Regions from separate parts of the Homo sapiens genome. Here regions 2, 3, 4, 5 and 6 are each linked to region 1. Evidence: fine-mapped expression QTL. A gene starts in region 1. Each other region holds a variant in brackets. All regions are shown on one strand. Distances are from middle to middle. Region 1 holds the start of MRPL23 (mitochondrial ribosomal protein L23). Region 2 overlaps LINC01150 (long intergenic non-protein coding RNA 1150). Region 3 holds the start of TNNT3 (troponin T3, fast skeletal type). Region 4 has its middle 2.1 kb from the start of LSP1. Region 5 has its middle 23 kb from the start of MIR483. Region 6 holds the start of LINC01150 (long intergenic non-protein coding RNA 1150).

The links.
Region 2: its variant is fine-mapped to the expression of MRPL23 in whole blood (TOPMed, PIP above 0.99).
Region 3: its variant is fine-mapped to the expression of MRPL23 in whole blood (TOPMed, PIP above 0.99). The same link has a PIP of 0.9 or more in cerebellar hemisphere, cerebellum, fibroblasts, subcutaneous fat, thyroid and tibial artery.
Region 4: its variant is fine-mapped to the expression of MRPL23 in whole blood (INTERVAL, PIP above 0.99).
Region 5: its variant is fine-mapped to the expression of MRPL23 in whole blood (INTERVAL, PIP above 0.99).
Region 6: its variant is fine-mapped to the expression of MRPL23 in whole blood (TOPMed, PIP above 0.99).

Annotation. Positions count from the first base shown.
Region 1 is chr11:1,945,434-1,949,517 of GRCh38, forward strand. MRPL23 (mitochondrial ribosomal protein L23) reads left to right here and starts at 1,899. Exons shown (of 5, transcript NM_021134.4): 1 at 1,899-1,946. The coding sequence starts at 1,930. It overlaps SNORD131 (small nucleolar RNA, C/D box 131), which reads left to right and starts at 3,898; the gene lies at 3,898-4,043. RefSeq lists an enhancer at 3,828-4,084.
Region 2 is chr11:1,904,252-1,908,335 of GRCh38, forward strand. LINC01150 (long intergenic non-protein coding RNA 1150) reads left to right here. Exons shown (of 4, transcript NR_120534.1): 4 at 3,581-4,084. It also overlaps a transcript of PRR33 not described here. Among named protein-coding and RNA genes, the nearest start is that of LINC01150, 9.5 kb to the left of the region's middle. RefSeq lists enhancers at 2,236-2,737, 2,738-3,237. The variant G/A (reference allele first, on the strand shown) is at 1,621.
Region 3 is chr11:1,917,118-1,921,201 of GRCh38, forward strand. TNNT3 (troponin T3, fast skeletal type) reads left to right here and starts at 2,586. Exons shown (of 16, transcript NM_006757.4): 1 at 2,586-2,645. It also overlaps a transcript of PRR33 not described here. The variant G/A (reference allele first, on the strand shown) is at 2,091.
Region 4 is chr11:1,848,911-1,852,994 of GRCh38, forward strand. No RefSeq gene overlaps it. Among named protein-coding and RNA genes, the nearest start is that of LSP1, 2.1 kb to the right of the region's middle. RefSeq lists enhancers at 572-1,558, 2,905-2,954, 3,946-4,084. The variant C/T (reference allele first, on the strand shown) is at 2,063.
Region 5 is chr11:2,108,940-2,113,023 of GRCh38, forward strand. No RefSeq gene overlaps it. Among named protein-coding and RNA genes, the nearest start is that of MIR483, 23 kb to the right of the region's middle. The variant C/T (reference allele first, on the strand shown) is at 2,227.
Region 6 is chr11:1,893,269-1,897,352 of GRCh38, forward strand. It overlaps LINC01150 (long intergenic non-protein coding RNA 1150), which reads left to right and starts at 3,491. Exons shown (of 4, transcript NR_120534.1): 1 at 3,491-3,877. It also overlaps a transcript of PRR33 not described here. RefSeq lists an enhancer at 3,552-4,084. The variant G/A (reference allele first, on the strand shown) is at 2,145.

The sequences.
Region 1 (4,084 bases):
CTCAGAGACCCCCCATACTTAGCATGCCTTCCGGAGGATCCCATTAGCAGACTATCAGAGAAACAGGGATGGAAGGAGTGGTGAGGGGTCTGCTCCATTGTGACCCCACCCCTGCCTCGCCCTGAGGAAGGACCTCAGCTCCTAGCTCAACCGCCGCCCTCCAGCAGCCCCAGTGATCTGAGCAGCACCCACCCGTGACCCACAGCTCGGCCTCCAATCACCCTCCTCTCCACATCGGCCACCCACAACTCTGAACCCAACTTCCAGCAGCCACATATCTCTAAGCACACTGCACAATGTGGCTGCCGAAAGAGGCAGCATTGCATGAACATAAAAGGAAGCCTGAGGACCCCCGGCCCCAGGACCCCCCTTCTCCAGCTCCATCCCTGTCCTGCGGTCTGCTCCTTGGGCCTGGCCAAGGGCACCTGCTGCTGGGCAAAGGCCTGTCTGGTCACCAGCCTCCTGGGACCCTGCCACTGGCAGCCTGGAGCTTCTCCACCTCACGCAGGCCTGGACAACAGTGGGGACGGCTGCCACCACCTTCCCTGCCCACTCTGGCCCACTTCTCACTCCATCCTGCTTCAATGCCTTCATGCTAGATAGACCCCCTGGAGTCATTTCCACTCAAACCCACCCATCAGGAGGAACTCCAGCCCTACCCGGCCCAGGCCCTCGGAGGGGCACAGTGCCCTCTCCTCCTCCTGAATTTCCATCAACCCCAGTGCCCTCCCGCAGCCCTGTTCCCACCTGCAGGCCTGGGCCCCCTGCCCCCAGCAACAACCAGGACCCATGGCCCCGCTTCTTGCTCTGAAGCATGACACCCCTGCCTCTTGCTCTGAAGAACACTTAGGGTGCTGTTGGGTGCGGGAACAAGCCAGGCTTGGGGGTGGGGGGCACGGGCAGTTAAAGAGATAGATGGAGAAGTGGCCTGAATCCAGCCACCAGGCAGAGGAAACCAGGGGAGGAGGGAGAGGCCTGGGGACAGGGGAGGGAGGCTGCTGCCCTCTACTCCCGAAGGGTCCCAGCAGCCCTCCTGGCCAGCACTACCCAAGGAAAGGAGTGAGGACTGGGCCTTGGACGGGGGTCCCTGTAGAGAGGGCCTTGCCAGAGGCTGGAGGGGGCTGGCCAGAAGGGTGGAGAGGGGGTGAGCAAACGGCAAGGCCTGAAGAGGCCAGTGGCCCTCTTGGAGGAGGCGTGGTGGGAGCACCGAGGATGGACAGCGTGGCTGGTGTGGCCAGCGTGGGGGCTGCCAACCGGGCTGGCCAGAAGGGCGAGGTGAGGGGCCCTGGGGTTCCGGGCTCCCGGGTAAAAACAGCCAGATGGAGAGAGGGGCTTCAGACCCCAGGCCCGGGGACCCGCCCTCCCCAGCACTACAGCCCCGGTTCTCCACTTCCAGCTCCCAGCAGCTGCAAGCGCAGCGGTGCGGGGCCAGGCTGTGGCCTGGAGCTGCCAAAGGGCAGGGGCACGGGTGTGGGGGGCGTGCAGGCCGGGGTCCCGGGAGGCAGGGCAGACAGGCCCGAAAGAGTGCGACGGCGGCGGGAGGTCTCTGGGGCTGGGAGGGGTGCGGGCGTGGGCGGGGCGCGAGCAGCAGGGGCGCGGGCCCGGGCTTCAGGCTGTGGGGCCGGGAGTGCGGGGCGGGACTGCTGCGGCCCCGCGTCCTGTGGAGTCTGCGGCGCGGGGAGTGGGGGTCGGGGCGGGGAGGAACGTGGGGTGCGGGACAGGAGGGGGGCAGGGAGGGAGAAGAAGGCGGCGCGGGGCGGGGCGGGCGCAGGGCTGGGGACGGCACGGGCGCGCGGCACGGGCGCTGGCGCGTGCGGGGGGGGCGGCGCGGCCTCCGGAAGCGAGGGGGCGCTGTGCCAGGCGGCGGCCGTGCGGGGCGGGCGCGCTGCTCCTTCCGCCTCGCGGACCCCGGAAGCGCGCGTGGCCGCCATGGCGCGGAATGTGGTGTGAGTAGGGGTCGTCACCCCCCCGTCGCGGGGCGCCCCTTAGTGTCACAAGCAGACGGACCCCACAGGGCGCGCGGACTCCGGGGAGCGGGGTGGGCGTCCCTGGGCCGCCTCCTGGCCCGGGCGAGGCAGGGTTCTCCGGGACCCCCTGTCATGCCTTGAGACACGCGAGGCGGGTGGCGGAGGAGCCCCCCGCCAGGTTTAGGGCAACCCCAGGGGGCGGGCGTGGCCGGGCTGGGGACAGAGGGTCCGAGCCAAACCCATGGAGGCCACGGTGCCCCCGCGTGGGGAGTGGGAGGGTGGCCCGGGGTCAGGCCCGGGGCTGGTCCCGCAGCCAGGGCCGAGGGAGCTGTTTGGAGACGTTTCTGATCGTCACGGGGCGGGGGCCACGTCGGCTGTTGGGTCCAGGCGGGGAGGCCCGGGCGGCCCCCACCGCAGCGCGGGCGCGGCCTGAGGCAGAGGAGCTGGGAATCCAGATTGGGTTTGAGTGGGAAAGGGCAGCTGACCGCAGCCCTCAGGGCTTTGGGGCAGGCAGGGCGGGAGGCCCGGTTCTGCTCAGCCCAGACCCCCCACGCCCACTCTGCATGTTCTCTGGATTCCCAGGGGGCCATCGGGGCGCTGTCCTGCACCACTTCGCCCTCCCCAAATTGAAGCAGGAAGCCCTGCATATTTCTTGGTGAACGAATGACTCAGGCGTAATCAGTAGATGTGGGCTCCCGGGTGGGTTTTGGAGAACAGTAATCAGTGTTTCTGGAGAGGGACGGTCAAGGGGCCAGGGTGTGGCTTTGGAGGCCCCTGCACATAGCTGGGGAGAGAGGGGAGGGTGGCAGGTGGGACCCCCAGTGGAGGAGGCTTCCTTCAGCAGACACCTGGGACCGGTGCTGCGCGTGGCCCTGACCTTGGGGAACACCCAGCACCAAGGAAGAAAAGGTCTGAGTGAGGCCAACACTGCCCTGAGCCTCACGTGAATTCCACGCTGGCCCTTCGCCTGTCCCTGGAGAATGAGGAGGAAGTGAGGGTCAGAGGACCCGGGTGGGGTGTTCCTGAAGGGCCAAGGGTGGTGGGCCCCTGGAAACGGATCAGGTGTGGTTGCCTTGGAGGCAGCGGGGCCCGCTCGCCCAGCAGTGCACACACTCCTGTTGCCAGGGAGCCTTTGCAGGGAGCGCTGACTGGACTTGCTGTGGACTGGATGCAGCTGGGGTGGGGGTGCCGAGAGGGTGGGATCCTGGGTGAGTCACTCGTGGGGCCGTGGGGAGGCAGGCTGGTGGCAGTGAGCCAGGTTTTTGTGTTTTGAGGAAGAAGTTAGTGCAGAGTTCTACTTGAGATAGGTTACCGTGGAGGTGCTTGTGAAATCCCATGCGGAGTGCTTGGGGTGCTCCCTGGGGAGAGTGGGACTGAGGGAACTGAGGGCTGGTGGGCCCACAAGGGTTCGAGAACAAAAGAGAGGCCTTAGAGCCCTGTCCTGGGGCCCTGGGTGTCGACAGTGCAGATTGTTCCAGATCTGCAGGCTCCATGCACAGGCAGCTGGCGCTCCAGCCTGGAGAGGCTCGGCCTGTGGGAACAAGGACAGTGAATCGTCCTGGCCCAACCCCTGCCAGCCTCTCATCTCAAGCCCACACATGGCCCTTCAGACCCTTAGCAAAGTGTGCCCTTCAGGCCCCAAGCCTGGAGACTCGAAAATTAATGGCCTGGGAGCTGTTGAACCCTCTTTTCTACTGTTTACTGGGAGTCCCCAAACTTTGTCTCCACTCCTGCAGTCCCACAGCTGGTCACCAGAGGGAATGTGTGAGCCCCTCGGGTGGCCATGGCTAGCCTGAACCTGTGGGTAAAACAAGTCAGGCCCCTCCACCTCCAGAGCCCACCCTTTCTTCTCGGCCTCTCACTGGGGCCCACCCCTGAAGGCTGCACTCTGAGGCTTGGAAAGGCCAAGGCCATGCCCAAGAGGAGGCTCTGCTGGGGTTGGGTGAGTGAAGACTCAGCCCCACTGGCCCGGCCACCAGGCTGCCATGTGTCAGTGTGGTCATCAGGAGGCCTGGGGTGGACATGATTAGTGATCGGGCTTTGTTACAGGCGCCTTGCCTCTGAGAGGTCCCAGCAGCTCCTGGCCCCTGCCAGGCCCTCAGGCCCAGAGGCTCAGT
Region 2 (4,084 bases), 41 kb before region 1:
GGCGCAGTGGCTCACGCCTGTAATCCCAGCACTTTGGGAGGCCGAGGCGGGTGGATTGCCTGAGCTCAGGAGTTCAAAACCAGCCTGGGCAACACGGTGAAACCCCGTCTCTACTAAAATACAAAAAATTAGCCAGGCATGGTGGTGCATGCCTGTAATCCCAGCTACTCCAGAGACTGAAGCAGGAGAATTGCTTGAACCTGGTAGGCGGAGGTTGCAGTGAGCAGAGGTGGCACCACTGCACTCCAGCCTGGGCGACAGAGCAAGACTCTATCTCAAAAAAGAAAAAAAAAAGAAGAAATTTAAGGCCAGGTGCAATGGCTTACATCTGTACACCTGTAATTTCAGCACTTTGGGAGGCTGAGGCAGGTGGATCACTTGAGGCCAGGAATTCGAGACCAGCGTGCCACCACACCCAGCTAATTTTTGCATTTTTAGTACAGATGGGGGTCTCACTATGTTGGGCAGGCTAGTCTCGAACTCCTGACCTCAGGTGATCCACCCACCTCAGCCTCCCAAAGTGCTGGGATTACAGGCGAGAGCCACTGCGCCCAGCCTCTTTATTCTTTTAATCTCTGCAGAACCTGTACTCCCGCTGCCTCTCTTGTTCCTGATATCGGTAATTTCTATCCTTCTCCTCCTTTCCCCGGGCCCTTCCCCATCAAGTTGGCTAAAGGTTTATCAGGATTACTGATATTCTTAAAGAACCAAGTTTTGGTTTTCTCAATTTTGTTCTATTATTTATTGTTTTCTGTTTTATCAGCTTCTACTTGATGTTTACTATTTCCTTTCTTCTGCCCACTTTGGGTTTAATTTGCTTTTCTTTTTCTATTTTCCTTAAGCTGAGAGCAAGGTCATTGCTTGAGAATTCTTTTTTTTTTTTTTTTTTTTTGGAGACCGAGTCTTGCTCTGTCACCCAGGCTGGAGTGCAGTGGCGCGATCTCAGCTCACTGCAACGTCTGTCTCCCAGGTTCAAGTAATTCTCCCTGACTCAGCCTCCCGAGTAGCTGGGATTACAGGCACACGCCACCACACCTAGCTAATTTTTAAATTTTAATAGAAACAGGTTTTCGCCATGTTGGCCAGGCTACTCTCGAACTCCTGACCTCAGGTGATCCGTCTGCCTCAGGCTCCCAAAGTGCTGGGATTACAGGCGTGAGCCACCGCGCCCGGCCTTCTCTCTTTTTTTTTTTTTTTTTTTTTCTGAGACAGAGTGTCGCTCTGTCGCCCAGGCTGGAGTACAGTGGCGTGATCTCAGCTCACTGCAACCTCCGCCTTCTGGGTTCAAACGATCCTCGTGCCTCAGCCTCTCTAGTAGCTGGGATTATAGGCGTGTGCCACCACGCCTGGCTAATTTTTGTATTTTTGGTAGAGACGGGGTTTCTACCAAACCCTGGTAGAAATGTTGCCCAGGGTGTTCTTGACCTCGTGGGCTCAAGCAATCCTACCACCTTGGGCTCCCAAGGTGCTGGGATTACAGGTGTGAGCCACCACACCTGGCCAGTTAAACCATATTTCTTACAGGCAGCACAGAGTTGGGCTTTGCTTTTTTATCAATCAGACAACCTCTGCTTTCTTTTTGTGGGGGGGACAGGGTCTCACTGGCATCCAGGCTCGAGT[G/A]TATTGGTGCAATCACAGCTCATGGCAGCCTTGACCTCCAGGGCTCAAGGGATCCACCTGCCTCAGCCTCCCGAGTAGCTGTGACTACTGGCACATGCCACCACGCCCAGCTAAAGTATTTTTTTTTTTTTTTTTGGAGAGATGAGTTCTCCCTCTGTTGCCCAGGCTGGTCTTGAACTCCTGGACTCAAGGGATCCTCCTCTACCAGCCTCTAAAAGTGCTGGGATTACAGGAGTGAGCCACCATGCATGGCCCCTCTGCTTCTTAATAGGGGAGTTTAGCCCATTGATATTTAATGTGCTTACTGGTATGGTTAGGTTAGAGTCTGTCACCTTGTTATTTGCTTTCTATTTGTCACATCTGTTCTTTTCTCCCCTTTACTCTTTTTCTGCCTCCTTTTGCGTTCATGAGAAGTTTTATTCGTTACATCATCTTGTTTGCTGGCTTTTTCGCTGTAACTCTTTGTTTTGTTATTTTAGGGGTTGACTTGGGTTTTTAGTTGTTAGCTTTAACGTCCCACAGTTGGCTCTGAGTGACTGATATTTCCTCTTTTTTATGGGTCACCCTTTCCTGCTTCTTTGTCTTTTTGATAATTTTTTATTGGAATGCAGACATTGTAAACTTTAACTCGGGTGGGAGCTAGATACTTTTATATTTCCACAAATATTCCTGAGCTTTGTTCTGGAATGTAGCTGTTTATCTGCAAGCAGTTTGATCCTTTCAAGTATTACTTTTACCGTTTGTAAGGGAGGTCTGGAATAGTGTGGGCTAACTATTCCCCACTATGGAGGCAAGCTGTTTCTGAGCCCCCCACCGCTGTGCGTGATAGGGTTTTCTGCTGAGGCTGGTGGGAGCAGACACAATTCCTAGGTCCATGTGAGCTCCCGGCACTGGTCTCTCTAGTCCTTTCGGATTGTGCTTTCCCGCCTTGGGACGTTTTCCCTGGGATGTGCTGATGGCTCAGTCCCTAATACTCCAGGGGGACTCTCGGGTCTCAGCTTCTCTCTCTGGGCAGCTCTCTGAGCTTCACGAACTTCAGCTGCCTGGAGACCCCCAGCTCTGTCTCATCAGCTCAGGGACTCTGTGGGCTCCACCTCAACTCCCGCTTCCCGCACTGAGGCCTGGAAACCCACCAGAAAGTGCATGGGCAGCGAGAGGCCCCTGAGGCCAATTCCCAGCCCGGGAAGCACTGTTGTGCACGGCCCACGTGTGGGATCTTGAGAGCCATTGTGTTGTGTATTTTGTCTGTTCTGTGTTGCTGTTTGGTTGTTTCATTGTCCTGTGTATTTTGTCTGTTCTGTGTTGCTGTTTGGTTGTTTCAGGCAGGAAGATAAATCCAGTCCCTGCTACCCCATCTCAGCCAGGAGTGGAAATCTGCCTTTTAATTTTGGTGGACATGTTTGGATAGACAGAAACTTGAAATGGTGAAGTGGTGAAATGGGCTGAGCTGCCCTTTTCTTCCATCATGTTTCCACTGTTCTAAAGCTGGAAACATTGTTCCCCAGCATGAAAGCAGATAAGTGTGCAGCACACATCTCTCTAGCTTATTTATCTATTCGAGATGGAGTCTCGCTCTGTTGTCCAGGCTGGAGTGCAGTGGCGCAATCTTGGCTCACTGCAACCTCGGCCTCCAGGGTTCAAGTGATTCTCCTGCCTAAGCCTCCCCAGTAGTTGGGATTACAGACTCCCGCCACCATGCCCGGCTTATTTTTTTATATTTTTAGTAGAGACAGGGTTTTGCCATGTTGGCCAGGCACGTCTCGAACTCCTAACCTCAGGTGATCCAACCGCCCCGGCCTCCCAAAGTGCTGGGATAACAAGCGTGAGCCACCGCGCCCGGCCTCTAGCTTTATTTTTAACCATTTTTTTTTTCACATGTCGTAGCCTCTGTAATTCACCTGGAATGTATTTTGGCATTTGATGTGGAGAGCAAATCTCACTGCCTTTTTTTCCTCCCCAGTGCATACCTGATTTTCTCGACCTCTTTTATGAAATATCCCCGCCAGACTCCCTCGACCGTGCCACCCCCAGGTTCCCGTGCATACACAACATTGCGGGATAGGTATTGTGGAATGAGGATCCGTGTTACGACCTACAGAAGATGTGGCTGTGAAGTCAGGAGTCACGGTCTCAGAGTTGACTGCACTGCCTCGTAGCTGTGTGACCTTCAGGATTTTGTTCAACCCCCTCTGAGCTTCAGTTTGCTCTCTGGGAAGACTCCAAGGATAAGAGCATCTACCTCCTCAGCCTGCTGTGAGAGTTAACAGGGCCAGGGCCAAAGACGCTTTGTCTGACTGCTGGTCTGCGGGGAGCTCTAAATATGAATCTGCTACATCACCTTCACTTTTGAATTCGGCTCTGATGTTCCAAATGTTCTTGGCCGTTCCTTCGTGTTTCTCCTGTACGAATTTCAGCTTCTTTTTGCCAAGTATCTCCCCACCCCCGCCCACCCCCACCCCCAAAT
Region 3 (4,084 bases), 28 kb before region 1:
AAGTGCTGTGTCAGCTGCTCCTGTCCTGGGCCTGGCAGTGATTGAGCCCACAGCTGGGCCGAGCGGCCTCAGGCTGGATCCAGCCTGGGGGCTCAGGTCAGCTCAGGGCATGAGGAGAGGCTCAGGACCCTCTTGGTCTCCACCACCCCCAACCATGCGCACTGGGTGCTGGGACCTAGATTGAGGGGCCCCGGCCACCATCTGGGGGCCACCCAGGCAGGGAGCTGCAGCCAAGACACTCAGGAGGCCATCCTCCCTCCCACAGCCTGCTCCCCACTCCCTGGGCTTGGCTCAGCATTTGCCAATTTCAGAACCCCCCCATCCCCCAACAACTGCCCTAGAGCCAAGGCCCCGTGGTCCGTCCTCAGACTCCTCCTGGGTGGAAATGCGTCCCCAACCCAGGCTGGGCCTCCCTTGTGCCCTGCCCCCACCCAGGTCTACAGTCCCCCAGGAGGCCCCTGCCCTGCCTCCTCTCCTTGGACCATCCCGGTCCGGCCAGATGGCAGCAGGGCATGGGTTACCTGGTGCAGGCCCTCGAGGCCGCTGGTGCCTGCTCTGTGCAGTCCCTGCTACGCCTCAGGCCCAGCGCCCGAGGGGGAGGTCGCCGATACCCAAAATAAAACCTGCCCTATCCCTCTGACCTCAGCTGGCTGGGCGGAGAGCGCCTGCCAAAGCTCCAGGAGCTGGGCGGGCAGCACCTTCCCCTGCTGGCCACACGGGGCCAGTGCAGGGTTATGGCACACCCACCTTCAGGTGCGCCCCTCAGGACCCCTGGCCTGGGTGAGGGCTTGGGTGGGCACAGGCTTCCTAGGCCTGCAGACTGAACCACGTGTAACCAGAATGGTGGGCTCAGGGCTCCGTTAGAGAAGCCGGCAGAGCGAGCCTGGAAAAGGAGGTTGGCCCCACCATGGGAGAGGATGGGGTGGGCCCGCTGACCCCCAGGGACCCGCTCACGTGCCTCTGAGGGAGCAGTTCTGCAGATGTCCCCAGTGGGCAGGAAGCTGGTCACAGATATCCAGGGGCCAGGGCTGTTTGTGGCCCCCAAAGCCTTGCCCATCGAGGACATGGACAGGGAGGGGAAGGCGTGGAATGCAGACGAAGCCACAGACCCAGAGCAGGAGGACGGCGACGTTCCCAGCAACCCCAGCTCCAAGAGCCTTCCCAGTGCCGGGCACTCAGCGGGAGGCAGGCAGGGGACCGGCCCTGTCCTTTGAAATGGCAGCCTGGGGCCAGCCCGCCTTGTCGTGTGACCCCAGGCACACCTTGCCTGTCCCTGGGCTCTGCGGCCTCGCTCTTCCATGGAGGGGTGGAATGAGGTGCCAACCACAGCCTTCCGGAAGGCCCCCGACCCGGCCCCAGGGCACTGTGAGCCCCTGCCGGGTTATCCTGTTGTCCCTGACTCTAAGCCTGGGGAGGACAGGGACCTCATCTGTGCCTCTCGGGACTCACCCCTGTCCTGGGCGCTGGCCAAGAAGGAACCAATCTGTGCCTGAACCGAAGAGTTCCGCAGACACCACCGCCCACGCTCAGCCTGTGGGGTCTGAGGGGAGTGAGGGGGTGGGTCAGGGTGCCAGACTGCTCTCCCCCACCTGGTGCCTCAGTTTCCCTGATCCAAGAGGCAGGGTTATCCAATCTGGTGGCCTCACTGGCCAGCATACAGGCCATCAGAGGCCAGGAAGGATGTCTGCTAGTCGGACGGTGCCACCTGGAGTCCTGAGGAAAGAAAACCAGTCTCCACACGCCACAATGAGCCTGTGGGAGATGCTGGCACAGATGGTAACGGCCACTGCGAGTGCCCAGGGTGGGGCCCCAGGGTTAGAAAGGGCCTAGAGGGAGGACCCAGACCCTTACCCAGCAAACTCCATGTGTAGCCCCCTGCAATGGCAGCAGCCCCGGGGGGAGGTATGGCAGACTCGGACTGCAGCCAGCCTGGCCATGTCCCTCGCCCGCTTATTGTGTAGGCCCCAACGGTGTCTAGCCAGGAAAGCAGAGCTGGCCTCTAAGAGGGTCTCAGATAGGGTGGGGGCCTGGCCTCAGTTCCATGGGGGGTCTCCGAGGCCTCAGGCTGCTTCCTCCCCGGGGGAGACAGC[G/A]AAGGGCCTGGGGCATTGGGCCGGGCGGCGGGAGGGGACCCCGGCTGTGCGGACCCTTTTCCTGGACAAATGTTTACTCCCACAGAACATCTCAGAGAGAAGGGGCGGGGGGGTGGGAAACCCGGCAGCCTGGCTCTGGGGACCCCCACACTAGTTTGGCCCAAAGAGAGCCTCGGCTTGGTGCCCCGGGGCCACCCAACACCTTCCTCCTCCCTCCTCAGCCCATCCAGAATGTACCCGCTGCTGGGAGTAAAAATAGCAGCTGACACCTCCTGGAGGCGGAGGGAGGACCTTGCCTCCTTCTCCAAGCACGTCCTCTGCATCCTGGCCTCCTTCAGCCTCCTCCTCTGGCCATTCCTATACTTGGTAAGGGGCCTGCACGGGCATAGCCCCCCCCAGCAAGACTCCGCACACACCCCGGCCACCCAGTCACTGGCCAATGGGCTCCTAGGAAGATCAAATGTCACTATAACACGAGGGTGTGAGCCGGGCGCCAGTGCCTGCAGCCGGTGCTGTCCACAGGGAGCTCCAGCCCTTCTCACACTCGACCCGCAGGTGGGTATAGGCAGGAGCGGCCACCCAGGACTGGGGCCGACGGGGCCTCCTGCGTGCGGGTGGACAGCCCCTCGTTCCAGGGACACTCTGGGGTCCTGGGGCGCTGAGGTCCCAGGTCCGTGTGGTGCCGAGCATCTCGAAGCATCATGGCTCGGAGCCCCCAGGTGGCTGCTCCAGCGTCCGGAGAGTCTGGGATGCGGACATGGTGGTGTGATGGTCTCAGCACCGGGAGGATGCAGAAGAAGGCAGAGTGTGGGAGGCCAGGAGGGGGCAAGTCGGGGCTCAGGGAAGCTCAGTGCTAGGGAGTGGCCTGAGGGCAGGAGGCAGAGAGGTGCGGGCTGTGAGCGGCAGGGAAGAGGCTGTGCAGGGGTGCTGCCAGGGCTTAGGTTGCCAGCTTGTGGTCGCCATGCAGACATTTGCCCAGGCCCGTCCTGGCCTTGCCATGCAGCTCTCGCACCTGGGCCTCCAACACCGCCATTTTGTAGAGATGAAAACGAGGACAGGAGGGCAGGGGCTCCTGTATGGCCAGCCCGAGTGTGTTGGGGTGGGGGCGTCTAAAGCCCACGCAGCCTTGGGGGCCAGCGTCTGGAGGTGCAGGACAGAAGTGGACAGGGGCTGGACTGGGGCAGGACGGGGCAAGAGTGAGGGGCTGGGCTTCATCGCGTCCCCCTGGCTGGAGGCTGGAGAAGCTGGCGCTCGTAAGAGCCCCCACCCACCCTCCCTGCCCTGGACACGGTCCCCCTGACTTGTGCCGTCTGATCAGGCCTTGGCTGCCCCTCCTGAAGTCCACGGAGGGACATGGGGCAAAGCAAAGGTTGGCTGGGTGGAGAACAGGTCTGGGGGCATGGTCAGGGCCACAGCAAGCAAGGGGCAGCGGCTTTTGCCTCCCCACCCTGCCCTGGCCCCGTCACCTCCCAAGGAGGGAAAGGTGATGCATACGTGCCCGAAGAAACTGACCGCATAGGTTATTTTCACGCAGCCCCTCCAAGGCAGGCACTAACTGGACACCTGCTTTGCGTCTCAGCTGTTGAAATGCCATCCCCTGCCCCCAGCACACCCCTGCCCCCAGCACACCCCTGCCACCAGCCCCTCCCCGCAACAGAGGCAATGACACAGGCCATACTGGGGGGAACAGAACAGCCTTGTGTTGCTTCCAGGCGCTCAGCAGAAAACCAGGTGCCTCAGTTTCCCCACTTGGAGAGTGGGCCTTTCCAGCGCACGTCGGGGGGCCTGGAGGTCACCCTGCCTGAGGGTGTTGGGGCACCCATGTGACTCTGGCCTGGGGGGACAGGAGGGAAATATGAGGAGCTGGGGAGGGCCTGGGTGCCCGAGGGTGAGGGGGCAGCTGTGGGCCAAGGAGGGCTGGGCTGTCACACCCGCCTCACCCACGTCTTGGGTTTCTGGGCAGAAACGTCTTGCCTATTTCTGGACACCTCAGC
Region 4 (4,084 bases), 97 kb before region 1:
AGCTCCTCCTGGCTCACCCCTCAAGGCTTCCCTGCTTGGCTCCATCCCCCGGAATCTGATGCCCTCAGCTGGCTCCATCCCAGAATCCAAACTAACTCATCACCTGATGCAGCCGCTTGCTGGTCCCCGTGCTGCTCGCTGGACCCTGCACCAGATTTGGAGACAGGACAACGGAGGGGCCGGGGTCTGCCCTCCACACACCTCCCTTAGAGTTTCAGGCACTGAGGGAAGAAATGATTCTGCATCTGATTCTTGGGTAGACTCTTAGCTCTTCAGAGGAAGGCTCTGTTCCTGTTTAACCTCCCACCCAGCAAGGCCCACACCGTTCTCAAACACGCATGCACTGCCCGGGTGCAGTGGTTCATGCTTGTACTCCCAGCACTATGGGAGGCTGAGACAGGAGGATGGTTTGAGCCCAGGAGTTCAAGACCAGCCTGGGAAACATGGTGAGACCCCATCTGTACACACAAAAAATTTTTTAATTAGCTGGGCGTGGTGGTATGTACCTGTGATCCCAGTTATTTGGGAGGCTGAGGCGGGAGGATCACTTGAGCCGAGGAGGTAGAGGCTGCAGTAAGCCCTGGTTGCACCACTGCACTCCAGCCTGGGTGACAGAGCAAGACCCTGTCACACACGCTCGTGCGCACACACACACACACACACACACACAGAAATGCCCGGACGGCCTGAGGGGTGGCTGGGCCCTCACTGGGGACACCTCCTCCCTTGCCCACGCCTGCCAGTCCAGGCTGAGTGGAGAGAAGGGCTGGAGGCAGGGGCTTGGCCAGGGAGGGAAGGAGTGAGAAGCGGGCGGCCACATGGGCTGGGCAGCCTCCGGGATGCTCTTTGCTTTTGTTTTTTTGTGAAAAGGTTGAGTGATTTGCACATCAACGTGGAGGGTGTAGGGAGGAGAGGCTGGGGGACCGGGAGGAAGGTGGATGGGCCGCAAGATGGCCCTGGCGTCTGCGGAGGAGTAGCTGAGTGAGAGAGCAAGAGTCTGCCTTCTCCACGACGGTGATGTGGGCAGGAGAGAGGGCTGGACGGCCACAGGAGGACACCCTGCACCCTGGCTTCCCTTTCCTCTGCGATTCGGGAGGTGAGGGCGTACATCTGCTGAGAAGGCCTCCCAGAGCCCCGTGAGCATCCTGGAGTGTGCCTATTCCTCGGCCTGGGTTCCTTGAGAACAGGCAGGGCTCCCCCACGCCGTGGCCTGCTTGTGAGACGTGTCGCTGGAGGGGTTGTCCTGCTGCCCTGTGGCTGCCGTGACGTTGAGCTCCCACATTCTGGAAGTCCGAGATCCTGGGGTGGGCAGGACTGGTTCTCCTGAGGCCTCTCCCACTGCTGGGGGTCCCGGTGCCCCTTGGTGCAACTGTCTTGTGGATGCCTCACCCTCATCTCCACTGTCTTCTCATGGGGAGCTCCCCACCGTGGGTGTCTGTGTCCCGTGTCCACATTTCCTCTTTTTTTTTTTTTTTTTTTTTGAGACAGAGTCTCACTCTGTCACCCAGGCTGGAGTGCAGTGGCATGATCTCAGCTCACTGCAATATCCGCCTCCCGGGTTCACGCCATTCTCCTTCCTCAGCCTCCCAAGTAGCTGAGACTATAGGCACATGCCACCATGCCCGGCTAATTTTTTTTTTTTTTGTATTTTTAGTAGAGATGGGGTTCCACCGTGTTAGCCAGGATGGTCTTGATCTCCTGAGCTCGTGATCTGCCCGCCTCGGCCTCCCAAAATGCTGGGATTGCAGGCGTGAGCCACCGTGCCTGGCTCACATTTCCTCTTTTTGTAAGGAAACCAGTCACACTGGCTGAGCGGTCACCCTCCTCCACCGTGACCTCATCCAGCTAATGACACCTGAAGCAACTCCGCTTCCAAACACGGTCACGCTCTGAGGGGTTAGGCTAGGGGTAGGGTTAGAACTTCACCATATGAATGTGGGTGAGGGGCATGATTCAGCTTCAACAGGGTTGGGTAGGCAGAGGGGAGGAGGGCACACTCTCCAAGCCCTTGGGGCAGGCCGATCGTCACCCCAGCCTTCAGCTCCAGGGCCTGTGGGCCTCC[C/T]CCTCCGCCCGAGCGGCTTCGTAGACCTGGGGCTGAGTGTGGTTTTGTGCTCTGTGTCTCCCTCTTGAAATTCTTAGGGTTTTTTTGTTTTTGTTTTGTTTTGTTTGAGATGGAGTCTAGCTCTGTCGCCCAGGCTGAAGTGCAGTGGCACGATCTTGGCTCACCGCAAACTCCGCCTCCCAAGTTCAAGCGATTCTCCTACCTCAGCTTCCCGAGTAGCTGGGCTTACAGCCGCCCGCCACCACGCCTGGCTGATTTTTATATTTTTAGTAGAGATGGGGTTTCACCATGTTGGCCAGGCTGGTGTCAAACTCCTGACCTCAAGTGATCCACCTGCCTCGGGCTCCCAAAGTGCTGGGATTACAGGTGTGAGCCACCGCACCCGGCCAAAATTCTCAGTTTTTGAACCACAGGGTTCTGCATTCTCATTTTGCTCTAGCTCCAAAAGTGAGGCAGCCGGTCCAGCCTTCGGGCAGTAGAGGGCAGGAGGGGGTGGACCCCAGCCTCCACCTGCCTGTCCTCTTCCTGGCAAGGTTCCTGAAGCTCCCAGCGACGATGCTGGGGCTGCCCTTCTGCAGGCCAAGGGAAGGACCTCAAGGGCAGGAGGACACAGGCATTGCACCTGCCGATGCAGTGCCTGGACGGGTGGGTGAGCGGAATGGCTGCAACCTGGAGGCGAGACCCTACCACCATGAGGGGAGCCGTTTCAGGATGGCCTCAGGATGGAGGCCGCATGGTGAGAACCGCAGGGCTCTGCCATGTGCCACTCTGCAAGGGGGACTTGGGGGCCCTTAGGGACCCCCAGGGAGGAGGCGTGGGGAAGACACAGGCATGGCCTGTTCATCTCCATGGCGCTGGGCCTGATCTGGTTTTAGCCCTGCCCATCGTCTGGGCCACGGATCCCTCTGGTGCCTCCACTCGTGGGGCTCTGAAAGCCTCTGCTGGTCTTTGTGGTGTGTTTGGTGGGTGGGGGGCTCGCTGAGTCCCAAGGAGGCGGCCTCCGGTTCGGCCCCACCCTGATGGGTCAACACTCTGGGCCCAGGGCCCTCCCAACCCCTGGCCTCTCTCCAGCCCCTCTTTGCCTTGGGACCCCCTGTAAGTCCTTGCTGGTTGGATTTCTCAGGCCCAGCCGCTGGCCAGGGCTCCCTTCTCCCATTCTCCTGCGCTGAGGTTTCCAGCAGGGAAGCCTTCGCCACCTCTGTGGCTGCCCTACTCTGGCCCAGCTTAAGTCCTCCCCTGCCTCAGCTTTTGGGGTCTGGCTCCTGCAGTCATGCATCCCTCCTCCTGACCCTGGAGCCACTGCGTGGTCACTCCCAGAAGCTGGGGACAGTGAGGGCTGGAAACAGCCTCCATCCCTCCCCTCGGGCTGGCCTATGCCTCTTGGGAGGGTCCCTGAGGCACTGCCTTTAGAGCCTGGGGACACGAACCACTCGGTGGTCAACTCCAGCGACCAGAGCACGGAGAGCAAGGGGCAGCGGGGGGACGAGGCGGATGCCCGACAGCTCGGCATCAGCAAGGCAGTCCAAGACAGAACAAGGCACCCGACGGGTAGAACGCAGGGGCATCCCGGGCACAGCCCCCAAAGCCACCTGGGACCCACAGCTGTTTGATGTGCTCAAGGCTATGACCCCAGGCTTCGAGAAAAGACTCCACCAAGTTCCATGAGCACCTGTAGGAGAGCCGGCCTCTGGGTAGATTTCACCCAAAGAAGCTAAAACGCTCACGTGGTGCTTATGGGATCACAGACGTGTTTGTCCCTGATGCTGCAGGAGAACTGGCCACTCACAGGTGGACCTGATGGCCAGAGCTACTAGCGGGGACCAGGGGTAACATGGGTCCCCCTCCCCGAGCCATGAAGAGCTGCCTGCGGCCATCTTGGCCCTCGCACCCCGTCTCTGTCACCCCAGGCCCCTGTAACTTGCTTAACGCTTCCTGAGGGGTGGTTTGGGTTTTTTTTTTTTTCTTCCTCTCCTCTTGTAGCAACAGATTAAAAAACAACACCCTGACCCAAGCCGAGACAGG
Region 5 (4,084 bases), 160 kb after region 1:
CCTGGGCCAAGAGGGCAACCCAGGGAGCCCAGGACCTTGTCCAGCAGCTGAGGCCTCTGAGGGGAGAGTGCCAGAAAGAGTGGGGGTGCCAGGGCTCTGTCCCCCATCTTTCCTGGCTTGGGTTTCTGGGAGAGGGGGCGGGTGTTGACTCCCGGAGGGGCTGCCCTGGAAGTCAGGTGGCCTGGCGGTTCCCAGACCTGCCAGCCCTTGCTGAGGGAGCCTGCAGGCTCTTCTCCTTCCCAGGCCTCCCCGGCATCTGAGAACCTTCTCCCCAGCACTGACCCATGGCTGGGAGAGGGTCAGGGCCCTCAGGGAGCCCGGCTGAGCCAGCACGGGACGCAGGGGTCGGCTCCTTCAGACCCCCCCACTTTCGGGCAGCGGTGCCCACGCCCAGCTGGGCAGGGCCGAGTCCATGAGACCCACTGCCCTCCCCGGGAGCTCCCGGCCAGCCGCCCACTGCAGCAGCCCGTGTAAAAGTAACGCCTGTTATGCCAGGAACGTCACAGGGCCCTGGGGCTGCAGACAAGCTGGGTCTTTTTTTTTTTTTATTATTAAAAAGCAAAACCTAAACCAAGAAAACAAAGTGATTAAGTTTCTCCTCAGAACAGCAGGCCCCACAGAAACGAGGAGCGACCGTCCCACTGGGTGCTTGGACCCTCACCCACCACTCGGGAAAACAGCCGAATTCTTCACACAAACAGGAAGCAGCTGGTCTTCCCTGAACATGAGGGGAGGGCTGGGGCCTCAGCATGCGGGCTGCCTAGAAGGTGGCGCTGCAGCCAGGCCCTCGGCTGGGCTGGGCAGTCCCAGCCCTCCAGGAAACGGCCAGGCTGCAACTCCCCCGCCAGGAACCCCTGGGCTTCGCGCTTGACCAGTGGAGCCGTGCAGGTCAGAGGAGGGTGGGCTCCCAGCACACACCCTTCTCTGCCACGGTGGGCTCAGCTGCTCCACCCAGGCTGCCAAGACCCAGCCCAGAGCACACAAACTAGCTGGGCTTCTCATGGGGTACAATGGGAGTGGGCAGGAGCTGGCAGCCATGCTGGGCAGGTCAAGGGCCTTCAAAGGGCTGCCACAGCCCAGCTGGGGCGCTGAGGCCTGCAGAAGCTCACTCTGGTGGCATTGAGTTGGGGAAGGGGTCTCTGTGAGCCAGGTTCAGAAAGGAAGATGTGAGGCAAGTTTTAAAGAAATGTTTTAAAATAGAAGGGGCTTAAAGCAGAAAAGTTTAGCCTGCCAGAAGTTAGAACATGTTCTAGAGTAACAATAATTAAAACCTCACGGTACTGATGCAAAGATGGAGATATAGGCTGGGGAGGAGAAGTGGAAGTCTGGAAGTGGAACCAGCAACCTACACAAAGAACATTAAAACTCCAGAAAAAAAGAACGCTACAATTTAAAACCACAGCGTAGGATCTCAGAAGCCCTTCCAGCAGAGGAGCACAGAGGAGCTGCCTCAGGCATTGTCTTGAGATAATGTGTTAGTAATTTGTAATAAAATTCAATCAAAGAGAACACTTACATCCACATAAAAACCTGCTCACAAGTATTTATAGCAGTTTTATTCATAATCACCAAAAACTTGGAAGCAACTGAGATCTTTCAGTGCGTGAGTGGGTAAACACACAGCGGTACCTCTATGCCGAGGAATGTTATTCGGTGCTAAAAAGAAGTTAGCTGTGAGCCGCAAGAAGACATGGAGGAGCACCAAATGCATGATACTAAGTGAGAGAAGCCACTCTGCAAAGGCTACGCCCGTAGGATTCCACCTCTATGACGTCCTCGAAAAGGCAAAGCTATGGAGACAGTGAAAAGACCGGTGGCTGCCAGCGTTTGCAGGAAGAGAGGGAGGAAGAGGTGCAGAACCATGACTGTGGGGGCAGTGAAACTACTCTGTCTGATAGTCTGATGGTGGATATAGGGCATGATAACTTGCGTCCAAACTCATAGAATGCACAACCCCTAGAGTGAGCCTGGACCTCAGTGTGTGCTGGTGCTGGCTGGTCAATTCTAAGAGAAGGCCCACATATTGCAACATGTGAATAACAGGGGAAACTGTGGTGGACGCATGAGGCAGGAGGTCCATGGGAACTCACTGTGCTTTCCATGTGATTTTTCTGTAGTCCTAACCCAGTTTTACTCTTGTCCAAGGACCGTCTGTCCATCACTTTTTAATGCCACTCTCAGCAGCTCCCTTTGTGGAGAACAAACCCGAGCCAGGCTGTTTACACG[C/T]GCATCCGGTGGGAGCCCCGTGCTCAGGTGCTCGCTTTTGCACAGGGGGACACTGAGGAACAGAAAAGCGAGGCAACACTCCAGGATTTGAAACAGTCAAAACACTTGCCCCTCTGCTAATTATAAGCACAGCTACTGGCCCCTAAGCCTGGGCTCTTCGACCTCGGTTCTCAAATGTTCCGGCCTCAGGGCCTCTTGCATTCCCCAAAGTTATGAACAAGTCCTTAAAGAGAGTGGGTTGATACGGGGTCACCCCTGCTGATATTTACTGTCTTAGAAGTTACAACTAAGACATTGAAATATTTCAATATTTAAAATATTAGAAATTTTAAAAATAGGTTAAATGAATTAATTTAAAAGTCACAACAGAGGCTGGGCATGGTGGCTCATGCCTGTAATTCCAGCACTTTGGGAGGCCAAGGCGGGAGGATCACTTGAGCCCAGGAGTTCAAGACCAGCCTGGGCTATGTTGCTATGTTACCCAGGCTGGTCTTGAACTCATGGGCTCAAGTGATCCTCCCACCTTGGCCTCCCAAAGTGCTGGAATTACAAGGAGGAGTAATCAAAAAGAAAATCTACAAGCACATAAGGCCATTAAAATATCCTTAATTAAAAAAAAAAGCCAGGTATAGTGGCACACACCAGCTACTCGGGAGGCTGAGGCAGAAGGATCACTTGGGCCTGGAAGGTCGAGGCTGCAGTGAGCCTGGATTGTGCCACTGCACTCCGGCCTGGGCCACAGAGCAAGACCCTGACTCAAAACCATATGAAACAAATGAACACAAAACAGTAAAATCACAACAGCAATAATAAACTCACTACTACACATTAACATAAAATATTTGTTTACAAAAGACAACTAGGCTTTTCAAAACAAAGCAAGTTCCGTGAGAAGAGTGAGATGTCTTTGCACTTTGCGAATCTCTGTGGCTTGCTGGAAGGCAGCGGATTCCCATCACGCCTCTGCAGGCTTTGGCCAGCGCATGGGAAGAATGTAGATGAGGACATCTACGAACATACGTGGTTGGGAGTGGGGGGTGGGGGGCGCTGGTACTTTAATGGCCTTATGCGCTTGTAGATTTTCTTTTTGCTACTACACCAAAACTTGACAAGTGTCATTTCTTCAAGCTTAGCTGCAATGCAGAATCTGAAACCCATGACCTTTAGAGACTCCGTGATGTTACAGTCCCTCAGTTTAGGAAACGACAGAGGCATCATAACCAAATGCACCGGGGCTGGGCGTGGTAGTGCACGCCTGGAATCCCAGCACTTTGGGAGGCCGAGGCAGGCAGATCACCTGAGGTCAGGAGTTCGAGACCAGCCTGGCCAACATAGTGAAACCCTGTCTCTACTAAAAATATGAAAATTAGCTGGACATGGAGGCAGGCACCTGTAATCCCAGTTACTAAGGAGGCTGAGGCAGGAGAATCACTTGAACCTGGGAGGTGGAGGTTGCAGTCAGCCAAGATTGCACCACTATACTCCAGCCTGGGCGACAAGAGTGAAACTCCATCTCAATGTGGCCAGGCACGGTGGCTCACGCCTGTAATCTCAGCACTTTGGGAGGCCAAGGTGGGTGGATCACGAGGTCAGGAGATTGAGACCATCCTGGCTAACATGGTGAAATCCCGTCTCTACTAAAAATACAGAAAATTAGCCGGGCGTGGTGGTGGGCGCCTGTAGTCCCAGCTACTCGGGAGGCTGAGGCAGGAGAATGGCATGAACCCAGGAGGCGGAGCTTGCAGTGAGCCGGGATCGTGCCACTGTACTCCAGCCTGGGTGACAGAGTGAGACTCCGCCTCAAAAAAAAAAAAAGAAAAAAAGAAACTCCGTCTCAAAACAAAACAAAAAAAAAAAC
Region 6 (4,084 bases), 52 kb before region 1:
GGTGAGTGGAGGGATGGGTGAGTGGATGAATAGGGGATGGATGAATGGATAGAGGGATGTATGGATGAGTGAATGGGTAAGCAGGTGGGTGGATGGATGGACTAATGGATGGATGAGTGGGTGAATAGGTGGGTGAATGGATGGGTGGGTGGGAGGATGGCTGGCTGGCTGGCTGGCTGGCTGGATGGATGGATGGATGGGTTAGTGAATGGATAGGTGGATGGATGAAAGGAGGGATGCATGAGTGGATAGGTAGATGAGTGGATGGATGGATGAAGGGATGGCTGGATGAATGGACAGAGGGAGAGAGGGGGGATGGAGGGAGGGATGAGTGAGTGAATGGGTAGGTGGGTGGGTGGATGGATGGATGGAAGGAGCGATAAATGAAGGGATGGGTAGGTGGTTGGATGGATGGATAGATAGATAATGGAGGGATTGATGAATGAAGGGATGGATGCATGGATGGGTAGATGGATGGATGGATGAAGGGATGGATGAGAGTGGATGGACAGGTGGATGGATGGATAGGTGGATGGATGAATGGAGGGATGGATGTGTGGATGGGTAGATGAAAGGATGGATGAAAGGACGGATAGATAGATAGGTGAGTGAGTGAATGGATAGGTGGATGGATGAATGGAGAGATGGATGAGTGGATGGGTAGATGGGTGGGTGGATGGATGGGTGAAGGGATAGATGAATGGATGGACAGAGAGCGGGAAGGATGGATGGAGGAAGGGATGAATGAGTGGATGGGTAGGTGGGTGGGTGGATGGCTGGAGTGTGGGAGTGTGTGTGTGTGTGTGTGTGATAGGGCCTCACTCTGTTTCCCGGGCTGGGAGTGTGTGTGTGTTTGTGTGTATGTGTGTGTGTGACAAGTTCTCTGTTTCCCAGGCTGGAATGTGTGTGTGTGTGTGTCAGAGCCTCACTCTGTTTCCCAGGCTGGGAGTGTGGGAGTGTGTGTGTGTGTGTGTGTGTGTGTGTGTCAGAGCCTCACTCTGTTTCCCAGGCTGGGAGTGCAGTGGCACAATGAGAGCTCCTTGCAGCCTCAACCTCCTGGGCTCAACGGATCCTCCTGCTTCAGCCTCCCAAGTAGCTGGGACCGCAGGTGCCCACCACCACACCTGGCTAAGTTTTTGATTTTTTTTGTAGAGACGAGGTCTTGCTATGTTGCCCAGGCTGGCTTCAAACTCTTGGGCTCAAGCGACCCCCCCTGCCTCCACCTCCCAGAGTGCTGGGATTACAGGCATGAGCCCTGCACCCAAGGGTTTGTGCTTTTTTACAGTGTTACATAAATGGCATCCTGCAGCACGCACGCACTCCTTGTCTGACTTCTGTCACGTAGCATAACTATTCTGAGATCCATGCTTGCTGCTGTGTCTGTTGTAAACACTCATTTTTATTGCCACAGCATGGGTACACCCCAACCCGCTCATCTGTTCGTCTCTTGGTGGACATCAGGGTGGTTTCCAGTTTTGAATGATGGAAAGTAATGTGGCCATTTACATTCACACACAGGTTTTCAGAAGGACATACATTTCCTTTACTCTTGGGGAGAGGCCTAGAAATAAAACGACTAGATGCCGTGGGAGGTGTGTGTGAAACTTGTTCAGAAACGGCCTAGCTCTCATTTCTTGTTGCAGTTGGAATGGTTCATCTCGCTGACTTTGGCCCTTCCTAGACGTGGAGGGTGCGGTCTGTGATTTTGGCTTGCGTGTCTCCCGGCACCAGGGGTGCCGTGCAGCTTTGCACGTGCTACTTCACCACTGATACATCTTGCTGGGGGAAGCATCTGTTCAGATCTTTTGCCCGTTGCTGTAAAATTGGGTTATTTGTTTTCCTATTGTTGAGTTTGAGAGTTCTTTCTTTCTTTTTTTTTTTGAGATGGAGTTTTGCTCTTGTTGCCCAGGCTGGAGTGCAGTGGCGCCATCTTGGCCCACTGCAACCTCCGTCTCCTGGGTTCAAGCGATTCTCCTGCCTCAGCCTCCCAGGTAGCTGGAACTACAGGCATTTGCCACCACGCCGGGCTAATTTTTGTATTTTTAGTAGAGGTGGGGTTTCACCATGTTGTTCAGGCTGGTCTCGAATTCCTGACCTCAAGTGATCCGCCTGCCTTAGCCTCCCAAAGTGCTGGGATTACAGGC[G/A]TGAGCCACCGTGAGAGTTCTTTGTATATATTCTGAATCAATCCTTGATGAAATAGATTTGCAAAGATTTTTCTCCTGGTTGGTGGCCTTGTCCTCTCACCGTTAACCATCTGAAGAGCAAATTTTAAACATTTTTGATGAATTTCAGTTTGTCAATTTGTTCTTTTAGGAATTGTGCTTTTGGTATCATGTCTGAGAAATCTTTGCCTTATCCAGAGCCATAAAGATTTTCTCCTGTGTTTTTATGGCTCCAGCTTTACATTTAGACCCACGATCCTTTTTGAGTTAATGTTTGTGTATAGTGTGAGGTACGAATGCAAATTATTCTTCTTTTTCTTTTTGCATATGGAGATCCAGTTGTTCCAGAATATGAAATTGCTGCAGCATGGTTTCTTGAAGAAGCTACAGTTGTGCACCGAGTCGCCTTTGCACCTTTGTCAAAAGTCTGAACTGTGCATGGTGGTGGGTGCCTGCGGTCCCAGCTACTTGGGCGGCTGAGGTGGGAGGATCCCTAGAGCCTGGGAATTTGAGGCTGCAGCGAGCAGAGATTGCACCACTGCACTCCAGCCTGGGCAACAGAGTGAGACCCTGCCTGAAAAAAAGTCATCAGTCTGTGTGTGTAAGCTGATTTCTGGACCGTTTTCTTTTGGATCTACTTGAATATTTTTACACCAGTATCACTCAAGTTTTGCTTACACTGGTCTTATATGAATTCTTAGAATGTTAGCTCTTCAATTGTGTTCTTTTTCCGGATTGTTTTAGCTCTTCTCCTCCTCTGCTTTTCCATATGTGTTTTAGAATGGACCTGTGAATTTCTATAAATGCAGGGAGAGTTGACATCTTAACAGTATTGAACTTACTAATCCACGAACCTTGGATGTCCCTATTTATTCAGGTCTTCTTCCACTTCTTCCAAGGATTTTTTACTCTTTCAATTTGGAGGTCTTTCACATCTTTTGTCAGATTGACCTCTAAGTATTGTCTATTTTTATACAGTTAGGAAGTGGTATTTTTAATGTCAATATCTGATAGTTGATTACCATTTTATAGAAACACAATGGACTTTGTATATCAGTCTTGTTATTCCACAACCTTGTTAATCTCACTGAGTAGTTCTTGCAGGTTTTTCTTTTGTTGTTGATTCCATCGGGTTAGATGGTCACGTTATCTGTAGATAAGATTGTTTTCTTTTTCCTTTCTCGTCTGTATGGCTTTTATTTCTTTTGGGGGCCTAATTGCACGAGCAGGAACCTCCAGGTCAATGTTGGACGGAGGTGATGAGGGCGGACATCCCAGCCTCCTTTCTGTTCTTAGTGAGAAACTGTTCAGTCTTCCGCCATCGGTTGTGGGGTTTTCATAGATATCCTGTATTAGGTTAGGGAAGTTCCCTCTATTCCTAATTTACTGAGTGATGTTTTTTAAACAAATCAGGAACCGACGTTGGATTTTTCAAATGCTTTTTCTGTACTGTTAAAAGAAAAACCTTAGACAAATTAAATTTAACAGAGTTTAATTAAGCAAAGAACCACTCGCTAATGGGGCAGCCCCCAAACCAAAATAGGTTCAGAGAGGCTCTGGTGCTGCCGTGTGGCTGAAGATTGGTGGACAGAAAAGGGAAAGGAGGCACAGAAAACGGAAGCAAAGCACAGAAACCGCCAGAGGGGCTGCAGCTCCATGCTTGCCTTATCTGAACACGGTTGGAATGGCCGGCACCCTTGATGAGCGGAAACCTGGTGAGTGGCACAAGGGAAGGCTTCAGTCTGTTTACGTCTCCAGTGAGGTTTCAGTTCACAGTGGATGGAGAAGGCGGAACATAAACTATGTCAGGAGGCAGCTTTACGCCAAGCTTAATTTAACGATTTCCCCCTTTAGACATTGGTGTCCCTGTCGCCATTGTAAATGTACTTGTTTGGTCCCAAGCCCCACTGGGAAATAGCAGA